Linked DNA regions of Homo sapiens: region 1 is linked to region 2. The links come from fine-mapping of genetic effects on gene expression. A gene starts in region 2. The other region holds a variant in brackets. All regions are shown on one strand. Distances are from middle to middle.

Region 1 (8,346 bases), 130 kb before region 2:
TTCTATTTTCTGAAAGCAGGAACATTTTGAGTGAAAACAGGTTTTATGTCCCAGCAATAAAGGGGTATAACTATAAAAATATATGTCATATCAGCAGGCATGTCTCTAAATAGAATGTTTTACCAAGTTTCCCAAGAGTCGTCTGAGGCCCTTTAAATTATAGGGTATATGAGCTTCCCTGCAGGGCAGCCTTTGAACTACAACTCATTGTCAATCTAAAGTAAGAGTGGGAAATGAACCTTTGGAAATGAAGGGTATGTGTTCTTTGCTCAGCATTTCCAGGTTTGTTCCTTAAAATGGATGCCATCACTAAGCAAGAAAAGAGATATATAATCGGTATGGGTGAAGTGAAGCTTAATACTTTAAATTGCATTTAGTTAGAAAAAAGTTTCACATTTTAACCTAAACCTTTGCATTCTCTTTGCCAAATTTGACTCAGGGCAAAGCAATCAAAAGCTGCCAGCAGTCACTTAAATGGACAGAACACTATAATAAGTAATTTAGAAGAGCAGATAATCCAAAGTTCACCTCTATTTGGGTTTGTAATAACATTTTCAGCTGATTTACTTTTTAAATTATTTTTAGGTTAATATTAAAACTAATTTGCAATACTTTAAAATAACATACTAACTGGGTACCAGAGGCCTAGAAATATTCAAGACTCTAAATGGAGCCAACTTGGGTTGTTCAACATGCTGGGTACAATTCTCAAAGCATATAATCCAAAATAGAGTGCATTTAGTATGTGCTTTTGCTTTCTCTGACTGCTCTTATTCTTGGTGATAGAACCAAGAAAATCTCCTGGTGCTTTCTCCTTTAGATTGGGCCTGTTGAGGAAGTCCTGATACACAAAAATAGTCATGCACTATTATTCAAAATAGTAAAAGATTGGAGACAACTTAATGTCCAACAATAAAGGACTAGTTAAACAAATTATAATGCATCAATAAGATGGGTTTCTGTACCATTAAAATAGCATTTAGAGAGAATTTTAATGACTTGAGAAACAGCTTATGATATACCATAAAAAGAAAAAAATTTTCACATTATAAAATTGACTATACAGCATTATAACCACTATGTGATTAAGAGCAAAATTGCTGAAATCTGGCTGTGTACCTTTGAATTCTGCTTGTGTCAGTTATTAGATATTTGATCTAGAATAAACTTCTTAACCTCTCTGAGCCTCAATTTCCCTATTTATAAAATGCACATGATAATAATCTCTATCTCATAGTGTTGTTATGAGAATAAAGAGATGTTTAATGCATTCGTAAAATGCCTGGAACCAAATAAGCACAATAAATGGTACTATTTTTATTTGTTTTAAATCAACAGAAACTTGCTCACGCTGTTTCTTCTACCTAAAAACCTTTCCCCCTACCATCTTTTAAAATTGCCTATTAGATCCTGCTTTTCCTCTAAGATCCATCTTACATGTCATCTATACAAAGTATGAAGCTTTTGCTCAGGACAAGCTCCCTCTAGACAAAATTAATCACCCCTTCCTTTTTTGTTGTCAGAGCATTTTACAATAAACCCTTTCTCAGCATCTATGCCATAAGATATGAATCAACATGTATCTCTTTCCCCGGAGGAATGTGGAGTCCTCAAAATTAGAGGGCATGTCTTGATCTTCTCTGTATCATCACAGCCTAACAAGTGTGACAGACAATAATTGCTCAGTCTACACTGGATTAATGAATGAATGAATGCAAGGTAAATTCTGTGAATGAAGCAGGCAGAGAGGAAAGATGAGACAGCAGTTTCTTTCCCTGTGACTTCCAAAGGTTCAGGTCTACTTTTTGGCCTGGAGGAACAATATTTCCAGTCTATATTTCATGACTCCAAATTCTCAAGATTTCTATTTTCTATTTTCTTTCTATTGTCACCTGTCCTAAAACATAATACATGTCCTAACAACTGAAGCAGAGTGGAATAACAGAATAAAACATGAACTTAGGGGTTGAAAGCCCAGGTTCTATTGCTGACATTACCACTACGACCTTGAATAAATCACTTTTGAACATGTAAAATGGGCATGATAATATACTATTTCAAAGGGTTAAGTATCAAAGAATGCATGTGAGAGCATTTCAGAAAAGCAGCACACAAACGTAAGATATCATCATTAGTTCTTTTGCTGGTAAAGCTTTGCTTATTTGAAAGTCACATTTAGTAACATACATTTTACAAATTTACAGTAGCCTATAATTCTTCGACAACATTAAGGACAACTTTTCAATATTTCCCTTTGCCTCATTCTACAGCAAGGCAGTTGGAAAGATGGAGAGGTTTAAAATTGTTAAATAAAATTGTTAAATAGAGTTCCTACGGAACACAATAAAATGGGAATGTGATTCACATTAATATTTAAATATACAAACTATTCTTTGTTCTATTTATAAAGCATCAATTAGCAATTACATTAAAATGCCCACATAATTCCTATTTAGTTGACAGCATCCTTCTTCCCATTTCATAGACATGCTGAGGCACAGCTAGGTCTAAGTATATCATTGCAGATTACCAAGTATAATCTGGTAAAGGAATTAAGAATTACTTTCTAACCTAGAGCTGCACAACAGAACTTTCTGTGACAATAAAAATGTGTGATAGTCTGCACTGTTCCATATAGTAACCGTGAGCTATGTATGACTTTTTAGCCCTTGAATTGTGATTAGTGAGATTGAAGAGCTTAATTTTTAATTTAGTTTAATTTAAATCAATTTAAATTTAAATAGCTACATTTGGCTAGTGGCTACTTACTATATGAGGAAGTGACTTTCTAACCAGTCCCTGTACTCAAGAGGACCACTCCCCAGCTTTCACATGCAATCTAAATATAAACTTTGTATTTGTTTCTTAGCCAAATTAATGCTTTAAAAAGAACAAGAGTCTATTACTTCATGATGTGAAAGACAACTCCACACAAACCGCTGGCCATGGCCAATGTCTTTTCTCCATGGGAAGAACATTATAATTAGAGGTTGATTTAGGGGGCCTAGAATCAGAACAAGGAAGGTGATTGGATGATGAAAATGCTTAATGACATCTGGTTACAATAGCTGGCCAAAGACATGGACTAGTGCTATTGCTAGAACACTTAGTCTGCCAGCCAAGACTTTCCTTTGATATTGTTTTTGCAAGTATTGCTGCCCTTGTTTTTGTGACTCTTCTTTCCATGGTCAACCTTTTTTGATTGGCACATCCTTCCTTCTCTATTTCTCCAAACTCACACTTGATCTGCACTGGCAGAGAGAAAGGTTTGTCTCATCTCTTTGGATTTGATTCCTCATAACTCTCAGTCCAACACACATTTCCCCTTTTATCTACTGCAGAAATGCTAGGAAGCCACAAAAGAGAAAGAATATTTATTTTAACCCTTCTGATAAG[G/A]AAGGAACTCAATCTATCTGGGAACAGACGTTCCTTCTTTTCCTTCAGACATACCATCAAGAGCATCTTAAGGTCAGACTGTAAAATATCTTTATCTTTTCAAGGCAGTTTTTGCTCATATTATAATCAAGGACAAGAGAAGTCACACAACTCTGGCAATGCAAGTCCTTGCAGCAGCAGGTGAGAGTGAAACTTTTAGCTACTAAAACTGCTCTTGCAAAACTAAGTCAGGTTCTGGAAGGTGCCGATTCTCAGTCAAGATGAGATCCTTGGCTTCTCAATTTGGTGTATGAGTGATTTTGATATTCATTAAATTGACTGACAGAGTGAGGCACAGGCAACCTTTACCTACTCACCAGCTGTCCAGTCCTGAAATGTTCTGGACTATTTTGATCCTTTAGGCTTTCTGTATATACAGCTATTCAGATGCAGACCTTAAATCTGCCCAGAAAGATTCTTAATTATTCCAGAGCTGGCCTTTGAAGTTGTGATTCTATATTTACTAAATGATGAGTAAGTCTCCCAACGAAAGAAAAATTTCTCAAGGCAATTGGGTTCCTAATAAATGATGCCTAAAGATCTTAATGTCATAACTTTACACAAAATTGAGGTCACTAAGTTCAATTTCCTCTTTACATACTTGGAAAAATTTGGGTCCAGAAAAGTTAACTGACTTGACCAAGAACATAAAAATGTATCTAAACAAAATATTGATAGTTATAACTTAAAATGGTGATGATGATGGTGAGGAGGAAGATGATGATAAGTTGTTTTTTTTTTTTTTTTAAATCATGGATATGAATAGTTCACGGATAACTAGATTACCAGACTAGGTTACCTGAAAGATCATACTACGTAGTTTTATAGAGAAGTTTGTCAATTTAACGGCACATTGAAATAACAAGATCTATTCAAATTAGCAAGGGTTGAGGATCATCACTTACAGAATTAGTAGGTACTAGTCTAAAGCTACCGATGATCATTTGTAGAAATCATTATGTAATTTCTAAGACCTGGATAACCCTGAAAACCATAAAGATAACCTCAAACAGCCATTCTCAATTCCCATTCCTTCTCGTTGGAACTACTTCATCTTTTCTTATATTTACTTTCAATATTAAAGTCAGTAGTTTCAATATTAAAAACAGTAGTTCTCAAAATTGGCTGGACATTGAAATTAGTAGAGAATTTCACTTTTTTTTTCTTTTTAATTTACAAATTCCTTAGTCTCATCCAAGAGTTCTTGGTTGCAGTCTAGGAATCCATGTTTTTAATAAATTCTCCCAAGCGATTCTGATGCAGCATTTGAGAATATCATTTATACAGAACTGGAGTTATTTATACTTCTGGCTTTTCAACCACTACATTTTAAAAGCAGGAACAAGTTTTAATTTTATTCCTTTATGTATCTGTGTTTGAGCTCCATCCTTATTCTTTACAAGGTGACCTGTAGAAAGGTTTAGAACCGGACAACCAGACACATCTCAGCTTGGAGTCCAGCCCTGCCACTACGAGCTGGAGGAAATTATAAAACTTTTGAGACCTAGTTCCTCATATAATTGTACATAACTTAAGGGTTTGTTGTACAATTTAAATAAGGTGATGCACCTTGAAGGCAGCCTAAAACACTATGAGACCAGTCATTGCAGTAGTAGAGACAGTAGTATTAACAGTACCAGCAGTAGCAGTGGTAGTATTAGCAGTACTTGCTCAATAAATACCTTTTGATTTAACTAAGAAAGAAACTACATCTGTTAAGTAAGCCATTGGAATAATTTGAAGAAATAAAGCCCTGAGCAAGATGAATGCCTATATGAGGAGAAAATAGTGACAAGTCAATTTAATTTTCATCTCTGGTGGAGTGGAAAACCATACAGAAAAGGGAAAAGCAATAGATACAATCCATTGATCAATGATATTTTTGACTCAGTTCTATTTGGCATTCTTATCAAAAAGCTAGAAAAAGGTGGTATTGATCTGTGTAGCTAAAAATCTTTTGCTTCACCCTAAATTCGCATGTACTCCCACATTTTCCTCTCTTTATTCCCCTCCCCCAACAAATAAACTAACAAATAATCCATCAGGGTTGATCACAAAAGGTGTTTATATGGAGGCTGGCTGCAGATGGCAGGTGAATCGGACAAAAAGGGCTCCTTAGAAATGTTGGCTCAGCAACCCTGCCCATCTTTGGACTTCTCTTTCACCTCTCTAGAGGCTATGGCATAAAATATGGGCATTAATATTCTAAGATTCATTCTGAGCACCTTTAACAGAGTCAGACACTGTGCAGCTATTAAGATAATAGCCAGTAGCATGCTCCCCTCCTTCTCTTCCCCCTTTCCATTCTGAGTTATTTACTCTCCCCATCTTCTTTGCATTTTTAAAATAATCCATTTAATTTTTTCTTTTGTATTTTTTTTCTATCATCTATGCCTTTAACCTATTCACAATTCTCACAGGCATTTGTTAGATATGCCAGAGCATGCAGGGCTTAGCAGCTACCTACATTCCCCTCAAGAAGGGGTGCAGGTCACTAGCCTCATACCCACGCTATGGGATGTCTCTCAGGAAACTAAGGTCAACTAGAGAGCGAAAGAAGCCACCATAATACAGCAATGATGTATGCAATGAAAACAAGAGAATAATGTTTTCATTCAAATGTTCCAAAAAATCCAATATTTGTCTTTGCAAGTGTGTGTGTATGTGTGTTTCTGTGTGTGTGTGTCTTCATCTGTAGACACATATCTTACTCACAAAATGCATGCATTCCACTCATGACATTGCTCTCCAACAAAATTTTTATCTAAAATGTCATTCCTCACCTTATTTTTCAGTGATGGTCTTAGTCAATGTTAAGGACGCAGTTGCACAAATATAGATCCTAAGTTCTTTGGAACAAAAACATTCTGATGAAGACCCCATAGCACAAAAACACCTTTATGAATATTTTTATTTCTAAAAATCTCAGAAGCACTCTTAAACCTCTTGCTTTGCTTAACCCATGAAGGCCTGGTTATGGAGACAACATACTATTCCATGACTTTCTAATTTGTCCTTCAATTAATCACCACAGCTCTGCAACACTCGGCAGTACTCTGTTGGAGTCACAGGAAACAAAATGTGCCCTTCTGCTGATGAAACTTTGCTGTCTGTGGAGGTATTTTAGCCTGCTGCCTGGATAATTACATGTGTAACTCACATTAGCAATACAGAGTGACTGGAGGCGGATGCACCCAGCAAGGCCACATGGGACCCCGTATGGATGTGATGGCCCCTTGCCATCATGGGTCACTGAAGGGCAGCTGCAATAACCCTCATCCAGTTCTGCCCTCTCAATAATCTCTGGCACTGCCTGTGTTTTCTCTTATTCAAGTGAGGGCAAGCACCTTCTAGTCCACAGGGGTTGGGCACAGACTGAGACACGAAGTCATGTGCCTTAGAAAGGTCAAGGTTGGTTCATAGGCCTCTTAGAGCAAAGAAGGGCAGGAGAGAAAGAAAAACTAGCATTTATTGAAAACTTAGAATGTGGTCAGGCACAGTGGCCCACACCTATCATCCCAGTACTTTGGGAGGCCAAGGTGGGTGGATCACCTGAGGTCAGGTGTTTGAGACCAGCCTGGCCAGCATGGTGAAACCCTGTCTGTACTAAAAATACAAAAATTAGCCAGGTGTGGTGGTGTGCACCTGTAATCCCAGCTACCTGGGAGGCTGAGGCAGGAGAATTGCTTGAACCTGGAAGGCAGAGATTGCAGTGAGCCGAGATCACACCATTGCACTCCAGCCTGGGCTACAGAGTGAAACTCAGTCTCAAAAACAAAAAACAAAATTGGACTGTACGAAGTCTTGTGTGAAGCACTTTCCCACAGCTGTATAACATAATTCTCACAATAATACAGTAAAAGAATGCAGTTACTATTTTACACATAAAGAAATGTGGTACAGAGAAGTTAAGATAATTGCTTAAGATTGCTCAGCTAGTTTGTAGCCAACCTAGAACTAGAGATTCAGTGTCCTAGTTCCTAACCCAATGTATTTAAGAACTCAGGCTCCAGAAATAGATTGAGTCCAACATCTAATAATTATATAACCTGGATAATTTTCTTACCCTCTCTATACATCAGATCGCTAATTTGCGAAACTGAATTCATAATAGTGCCAACTTCATAGAATTGTTATGAAGGTGAATCCATGTAAAATCCTTAGGACAATGCTTAGAAACATGGCAAAAGATTTCAAGAAACTCCTGGTAGAACTCATAGGCTGGTGGGAAAGACAGATGCATAAACAGATTAATTAAAGGACAAACCTGCCAAACACTTTTCAGTAACGTTAAAAAGAAAATGGCGTGAGATCTCACAGGAGAATTTACTTAGCATCCCCCATCCTGTAAAATGTGAAATAAGCCCATCTGAATGAAAGGAAAATAAAATTCACAATGGTGTTTGTGGAAACTGGCTATGTCAGAATATAGTTATGGGTTTAACTGATAAAGACAGATAAGGTAGTTCCAGGAATCATGTTTTACTTAGAGCTCCCCTGCCTGCGTCTGGAAGCCCTTTGAGGTTGCTGTACTGCGTGCTTAGCTGGACCATTAGTGCTGCTATTTTTAGAGCTGTCAACATCTATATAAAACTGAACTCATCCAAAAAGACCATATATAGGTTCTAAGAATGAAACATTTTTCTCTTACAAAAAGAATAAAGACCCCCACTATTCCCAGGAATGAGAATGCAATATCAATTCTTGGGGGTTTTTTTGTTTAATAAACAATGATAATGTTTAAGCACTGTATATTGAATAAAAACATCATTGGCCCTGAAATAGAATGACCCTCAATTTCAAAACAGAATGTCCCTTCAGTTTGGCAAATCACCTCAATTTTCAGGTTTTTGCTTCAATACTGTGCTCTGATACTACAGGATCATTACCTACCAGCTAAACTGAATGACT
Region 2 (8,346 bases):
ACTAAGTATATTTGATAAAGGATTTATCTGCAATGCACGATCCTTACAGTATCAGGGCTAACCAACAAATTTTGATAACATTTAGTGATTTAACTACAGAAAAAGAAAATTTCATGATGGTCACAAACTTACCCAGTAGGCCCATGCCCACAGTTTGTTTCAAATAGTGAATTGTAAGTCATAGAAAATCACATATCGTATCAAGAATTTGAGGGTTGACACTTCATTAGTGAATATTGCCATTCCACATGATTTACAGAAGATAAACAGAAATTTGAACAAGATCTTTATATTTCACTATCAAATAATCAAATCTCCTTTTGTTGTTTCTTCTTTTCCCCCCTTGGTGTAGAAACAAACAGGGAATTAAAGACCCCAACTTTGAAAAAACTAAACATTAGCTATTCTTCATTTAGATACTTAGTTTCCTTGGGAATCTGTAATACTTGTTAGGTACGCTAACATTTAACTGGGAACAATGTTATTATCATTAAAAGTATTATAATATCCTGTAAACATCAGATAGGGTCAGAATTGTGAGCTAAATAAAATTTTATTACCTTGAATTTAGAATATTTAAAATCACAAGTGTGAAGTCCCTGTATTTTATCACATGCCTACTTGTTTTATATCCAGATACGCATGTGTATGTACGTTTTACAAAGTTGCCTTATGAATAGATATGTGATAATATAATGTATTATAAAACTAACATGGTTCTTTGTGGCCAAATATTTTATTATTATCTTTTCAGAAATCTGCCACTCATGTTGAAAATATGGTCAGTAGGACTATTAAAAATGAAATTTTAAAGGTTGGTTTGAAATACCCTCTATTTCTGCTATTCTTTGACTTGTAAGAGAACTATTAATACATAGTCTCAACCTTCCAATATTAAGCAGGAGGTGAATCTCTATGGGTATGAGGGTAGGAGGGAAGAAACAGTGTTAGAAACTTATCCTGTAATTGAACTCTTACTCCTGTGGGAGCTGGTAATGAGGCAGGTAGACTCTGTTTAGAAAAGCACCTGAGGCAGCTTCATGACTGAAGTCCTGCGGATAAGCGTGTCTCACTCTTTCCTGTACACACAAATATAAATGCAGATTCTGGTTGTTCTATTTAGGGAGGACCGCCAAGGCTGCTGCTGCTGCCGCCACTACTCTGTGAATCACACTTTGATTCTTTGTCCCTGGGACAGAAGTTGGTATTGTGGTTATCTTTAGTTCTTTATATAATTTCTCACACAGGTCTGTAATCTCCTCTAGAAAATAATTGAGTTAGGTATGTATACATGAAGCTACCTCTCTTTCCCTCCAATTTTGTCACCATAATTATATAGTTTTTATTATTTTCAAAATGATAGAAATTGAGGGCAAGACCTGAAGCCTAGTGTGCACTCTCCTATCTGATGCATAATTACACTAAAGATCATAATTATACAAAAATGAGCATCAATCCCCAAAAGAAACTCTTGTTTCACAGAAAACTTTAAGTCAGTGAAGGTAAATGTTTTGGGGACAGACAGCCAAACTCCTGTCACTGGATTACCAGAATTACAAACCTCCCTTGTCTCCTGTTGCCATCTCATATCATTCGGGGCCACAAACTCACTAAGAGAATTATTTTTTTCTCCTAGCCATTTCACTTTCTCGGTGCCAGACATCTACTGTGGCTTCCAATGAATCAAGTTCTCCTTCCTTTCCTTCCCTGAAAGCTCATGCACCCAGTAAAATGTCACAAATAAAGTGAAAACACACCTTTCCCAGGCTGGCCTTATAAGCAGAAAGCAAGAGCACCATTCTTCACCAGGAAACTGACCCAGAAAGCTTACCGGTTTTAAAGAGATTGAGAAGAAGGTCAGCTAAGAAGACAAAGGGAATTCTCTCCATAGTTAATTCTGATGAAGCTCCACCAACCCCAAAATAAACCCTTGTCCAAGGCAAGGAAATAAAAAAGAGGGCATGTAAGGTGAGGTCTGGAAAAGAAATGGTGTTTCATAGGCGACTTATTTGCATGCTCTGTTTGTCTGTCTTTTCTTTCCCAGAGAATAAGTGGTTCTGTGTTTATTTTTTCTCTCAGAGTCCCTATTTCCACACTGTAATGTCTGCTAAAGCGTAATGTTTAAAACTCTGTTTCTATTGCGCCATAGACATACAAAAGCACATATGTATCATCCATAGATATGTATACAGTGAGACTGCCTCTGTATGAAAGCATAAGAATGTTTTTATTCTTCTGAATTAACATTTCTATACTTATCTAACTCTTAGACAACTGTAGTTTAAGGTATAGGAGATGCTAACTTAGAAAGACCTTACAAAGCTCAAGGACACTGAAATAAAAAACATATACATTCAAGTTATTCATTTTTCTCATATTCAATCTTGTAACCAGTGAACAAAATTTCTAGGGATAGCATATATTTATATAGAGTGCTTCACCATTAAAGGGTTAATGATGTTAGGGAGTATGAATGTTAGCAATTGAAATGGCATGCTTGTGTGTTTGCAAAAACATTTTCTGCACCATGTCCAAATTCCTTTGCAAACAGATAAATTACTCTGTAAATCTGATTACTCCATGTGGATAAATCACACATGCAGGTTTATAAGGCTGAAGAGCTAGAAGGGAAAATCTGCTTTGGATAGTAGGATCTTTGGGATTCGTAATCACCCAAAGCTCAGGAAATGAAGAAAGGAGTGCTTACACATTAGCATTTTCTTACTTTTTACAATCTGGAGAAACACATACCCACACAACACACACACATGCAATGCACGGCACACAACACACACTTTCGTCTCTAACAAGGCTAGAGCTCCCAAAGCAGGACACTGTGACAGCCAACCAAATTTATTTCTGAGAAAAGGAAAGAAAACTTTGCTGCTGTCGGCAGCTCTGCTAGAGAACTGCTCCCTGATGCCCCAGGGTTTATGCACTATCAGCTCCTTGCACACAGATTAGAGGTTTATTTTCTATTGTATACTGTGTTTTTATTGCCACAACAAGCAATATTACCTAGATAGACAGACTGACACTGGGTCATTTTATTTGGAGGAAATGAGATTTTTAAAAGATCTCCAAGGAGAGTGATTCTTTCTTTTTGTTAGCATCTGCCAGAAATTCAAGGAAAGCTAGAAAAAAGAACAAGGGGTAGGTACAGTTGGTGGAGAGGAGGAAGAGAAAAGAGAAGCACAAAAAATAACCTTGGAGCATTTTAGAAATAAAAATATGACTAGGTCTCATTTGAGTCTCTCTAGCTCACAGTACCTGATAGGGGTCAAACTCCCAAGGACTTGGGACTCTTCTTTCCAAATTTCAATCTCAAATTATTTTAGAGTTTGCCAGAGCTGCACAGAAAAAAAGACTTTGAAGTCAATAATCAATTTGAAATATCCATTTTATGCCAGGTTAATTCTCTCCCAACCTCTGTGTTTAACACTCCTACTCTTAAATATCAGCAATTTGGCAAATTCCTTTTCTTTCTGCTCTTCATATCTTGTGTTGATTTATATCCACATTCCAGGAAAGGCTCAGTAACCAACCAAAGTTCTAAGATTGATTTATTGCCCTCCATGTCAATTAGAAGATCCTTACAGAAAGTCTTCTATCAGAAACCCTCACACACAACCTTGATATGTGTGTGTGTGTGTGTATGTGTGTGTGTGTGTTGGCATGAAAAACACACACACACACACACAGACACGGGAGGAGCAAGGAGAATGCAGTACTGTGTACTACTCTCTGAGAGCCATAATCCAACAACCTTTCTTTCAGAATTAAGGACCCCCAACAAAACTCTCAAGTGCAATGCCACAGCAATTACAATAGTGAGAATACTGCCCAGAAGTCACTAATGCCATGGGTGAAGTTAGGCTTCCTTGATAAGAGAAACAAGGTCCTAAGAACCGAACAACATTTAACCAACACCACTGCTGCTTGACAGGGACCAGAATTCCCTTGAATTTTGTTAGCTATAATGCCAACCAGTCAGTAAAACAGGGACACACACACACACACCACACACACACACACCACAAGCCTGCAGCATCAGGAGCTGGAGTTCAAGGAGATCAGACACACACACACACACACACACAAACACACACACACACACACACACACGTGTAGACGCGCGCAGCAGAAAAGTTGCCCGAAAGCCCTACCTGAGGATGGCTGTGTCCCCCTGCCTCACGGTGATGTTGTCCGTGCCTCGGTTAAAATCCACGCTGCGAACAGGCAGTCCTGTGGGAAGAAGGCAGAGCAATCTCAGTAGGACCAGTGGCAACTGTTTCCGATCCGGCTGAACTCTCCTGACCATGGTGGCCACGCCGAGGTGCGGGTCCGCGGGGTGCTCTGGAGGGGTGCGCGCTGCTCGCGAGGAGAGGCTTCACCAACACGGGGCTTTCATCCACAGCGAGCGCAGAGCGGGCTTTGCCAGTTTATGGTCCTTTCCACTTTGCCTCTCTCTTTCCCTCGCTCAGTCTCTTTTCCCTCTAAGACTTAACAAAGCCCTCATAAAACCCAAGCAGAAGGGTGAAAAGTAAAAGCAACACAATTTCAAAAGAGAGAGTGCAAATAGCAAGCCCTCTGGAAGAGCTGAAGAGGAAGCCAAAGGAAAGGGTTCTTGTTTGGTCTCTCTGTGACTGGATGCTCCTCTGCCAGTGTCTGAGCTGAGCTCCTTCGCTCTGTAACCCACTTTCCCAGGCTGGCGGGCGGGCGGGCGAGGGAGCCGGCACCAAGCCTGCCAGTGAGTGTACAGAAACAGCCACACAGCAGCAGCAGCAGCAGAAGCAGCAGCAACCCAGAGCCTCTCTCCCCCTCCTCCCTTTCCTGTTTCTCCCAGTCCCTGGCGCTCTCTCAGCTCAGCACCTCCCCCCCACCCCCCCACCCTCCCCCCACCCTGCTGGTTTTCAACAGCCCCTCCACGTCATCCCCTCCGCCCTCCCCTCGACGTGGCCCCTCGCTTTGCACAACTGCCCCCTTCAGCAGCAGCCAGCCTCAATGAAAGCCTGATGCGCCTTTGGGTTGTCAGGACGACAGCTCCATCTGAGGCCTGGCTGATTTCCTTAAGAAGGGGGAACGGAGCTTAGAGGTACTGTTCAGGAGAGAGGGGAGAAGGAGAGGGACTTAAGTTATAAAAGAACAGGAGAAAGAGTCCAGGAAAGGAGAGGGAAGGGGTGAGGAAAGAAGAAAAAGGAGGTGGGAAGGAGAGTTGCAAATGAGGGGAGTGGGACAGAGGACAGGAAAGCTTTGAGGTGGGGAGTGAGGGTGGGGAATGTCCTGAAAGATGGGAGAAGGAAACTGAGGAGAAACTTGACAGTGGAGTCTAAGATTAAAAGCCAAAGTTGATTTCAAACGAAACATTCTTGGCAACTGGCTTTGCGTGTTCAAGTCTTGTTCATTCTTTCCTCTTTCCTGCACTTTCTCTTACAGGATTAAAATGGTTTATTTTCTCTCCTTCCTTCATCCCCTCCCCCTCTTGGAACCCCTTTATGAAAGATGGATTGGAGACAATGCTGGTATTGAGTGGTCTGGGGTGTGAATGCTTGGCTTGTTTTTTCCAAGTGCCAGCCTCAGCAGCTGATCCCTGATCCCTAAATCAACTTCACTCTCCAGGAAACTCTCACTCAATCCTACACATGAGTAATGGTATTAAGGATTACTATTTAAAGGGCACATTGAATTGCTACCCAAGTTCCTCCTGGCACTTACTTCTCAAAATGTTCATATGCAAGGAAGGAGATTTGTAAATCAGAAAGCTTGTCATTTGCAAGGAGACACTAAGTAAGGTTGTGTGCAGTACTCCTGCTAATGGCAGACAGGTTACCATCATTTGTCACTCCTTTTATTCCATGAGCCAAGCAAGTGATGAGGACCATAAAGACCACTGATAGTCACTCAAGTGACAGCCCCACACTCTTGGACATCTCCCTCATTACTGATGTTGAGGATAAAAAATGTGTTTGTACCAGCCAAGGACTTTATTTTTCTCTTCTTTGATTATATTTATTTAAATAATGAAAGTATTCATATGGTACAAAAACCAAATGGTACAAGATGCTATAGAGTGAATTGCAGTTTTCTTCTTCTTTTTTTTTTTTTTTTTTTTTTTGAGACAGAGTCTCACTTTATTGCCCAGGCTGGAGTGCAGTGGCTCAATCTCGGCTCACTGCAAGCTCCGCCTCCCGGGTTCACGCCATTCTCCTGCCTCAGCCTCCCGAGTAGCTGGGACTACAGGCGCCCGCTACCACGCCTAATTTTTTCTGTATTTTTTTTAGTAGAGACGGGTTTTCACTGTGTCAGCCAGGATGGTCTCGATCTCCTGATCTCGTGATCCACCCGCCTCGTCCTCCCAAACTGCTGGGATCCCAAACTGCTGGGATTACAGGCGTGAGCCACGGCGCCCGGCCGTAGTTTTCTTCTTATTCCCGTCTTTAGGCAACCCATTTCTCTTTTTTGGAGGCAACATATATTTTAAGTTTGTTATATATCTTTCCATAAATATTCCATATATATAAAAATAAATATGTACATAGATATTATACCCATCCCTCTTATGTAAGCAAATGTTTAGCCTAGGACATTTGCCAAAAATAAAATAAAAAGAAAGAAAGAAACATGTTTAGGAATCCTTATCAAACCCCACCAGAGCACAAGCCTTAAAGAAACACTGTGCTGAAACTGGCTTGTCCTCAGAATACTCAAAGCACTTTTTCTGCGCATGTTTTCAGTTTAAAAGATAGATGAACTCTTACAGATTACGTGAGGAAAAAAAGGAAGACCTATTTTGCTTTTAAGAAAACACGGAGGATTGGAACCTGAATTGTCACAAATCCATGATTGATGGAGTTCAATTAATTTTATGTGTACTGTGCATTCATTTTATATAAATCAAGGTGTCCTATGTCAGGGATTATACACAGTGCCCAGTTAATAAACCAATGTTCGACCACTAAGTTATAACTCAGCTGTTTAAAACTTGGAATCCATTTTGCCATAGGAGAAATAGTTAGGCCAAGTGGATAGTTGACTAAAAAACTCATAATCCTGTGAATCCCGGTATCAATGGACAAATGAGCTTCAAGTGCCAAACAAACAAACAAACAAACAAACGAAGATCAAAGATGCAAGGATTACATAATTTTCTGCCAAGATTGCAGAGAAAAGAGCACCCTCCCTTTCCCCACACCACCAACAGACTTGACCATCCTTGTCAGGCTAATTTTTTTGTTTGTTTGTTTTGTTTTTTGTTTTTTGTTTGTTTGTTTGTTTTTTGTTTTTTTTTTTTATACTTTAAGTTTTAGGGTACATGTGCACATTGTGCAGGTTAGTTACATATGTAAACATGTGCCATGCTGGTGCGCTGCACCCACTAACTCGTCATCTAGCATTAGGTATATCTCCCAATGCTATCCCTCCCCCCTCCCCACACCCCACCACAGTCCCCAGAGTGTGATATTCCCCTTCCTGTGTCCATGTGATCTCATTGTTCAATTCCCACCTATGAGTGAGAATATGCGGTGTTTGGTTTTTTCTTCTTGCGATAGTTTACTGAGAATGATGATTTTAAGCACTTAGGAATGAAGAGTTGGCTTAGACAAAGGCTTCGATTAACATATATCCTTTGGTTTGGTGCTTCTTCCATGTCAAGTGGAAGAAAAGAGAGATAAAAGGGACTGGTAGCTATGAGAATCATCTGTTTCCATTGCTGGTGCTAGGTGAATAGTATGACCCCCAGTAAGAGCAGAGATACTCTGAGGGGAAGGATTAGACATTTAAAGAGTATAAGTATTCTCCTGTGTCAGTCAACTAGATTTTGTATGAAGAAAGGAAAGTTTTTTTCAGGACAAGGAGGAAGTATGGTGGCTGGTAGCATATCATAAACAGAAGATGTTTATACATGATTGTTAGCTAATACCTATACTGGTAACCTCATACTACCAGAAGAACTTGCCTGGTGGTGCTTGGAGAAAACATATGTTTAACATACTGTAATATGAAGTAATTTACATCAAAGTAGTAGGAATGTGGAATTTGTAGTAACTCAATCAAATCTGGAATTTGTCTCTACATTCACTCTGAGAAATGGATATATTAAAGTAAATCTGGATTGTAATCAGAATTATAGAATTGCCTAACCTACCTAATCAGAAACAAATTATAAACACATATGTGTATAAAAATCATATAATGTAATTAAAGGTTTTTAAAAATATCTTTATTAAATAAAGTCCATTTCTTGGCAGCTTTTGTTAAACTAAATTGACTTACTATGATGACTGAAAGTAAGATGCAATTTTTTAAAAAGACAATATTTTAAAAATTCCCTAATTTAGGCTGTTT

Which allele goes with the higher level. Alleles are on the strand shown, and positions count from the first base shown. SD is a standard deviation of normalised expression in the study named.
For the expression in lymphoblastoid cells of the gene that starts at base 4,777 in region 2, G is the low allele of the variant in region 1 and A is the other (large effect, 1.2 SD a copy in GEUVADIS).

What was found.
Region 1: its variant is fine-mapped to the expression of LSAMP in lymphoblastoid cells (GEUVADIS, PIP 0.95).

The regions. Positions count from the first base shown.
Region 1 is chr3:116,306,749-116,315,094 of GRCh38, forward strand. All of the region lies in intron 1 of LSAMP (limbic system associated membrane protein), which reads right to left. Among named protein-coding and RNA genes, the nearest start is that of LSAMP-AS1, 49 kb to the right of the region's middle. The variant G/A (reference allele first, on the strand shown) is at 3,397.
Region 2 is chr3:116,440,711-116,449,056 of GRCh38, forward strand. It overlaps LSAMP (limbic system associated membrane protein), which reads right to left and starts at 4,777. Exons shown (of 7, transcript NM_002338.5): 1 at 4,167-4,777. The coding sequence starts at 4,321.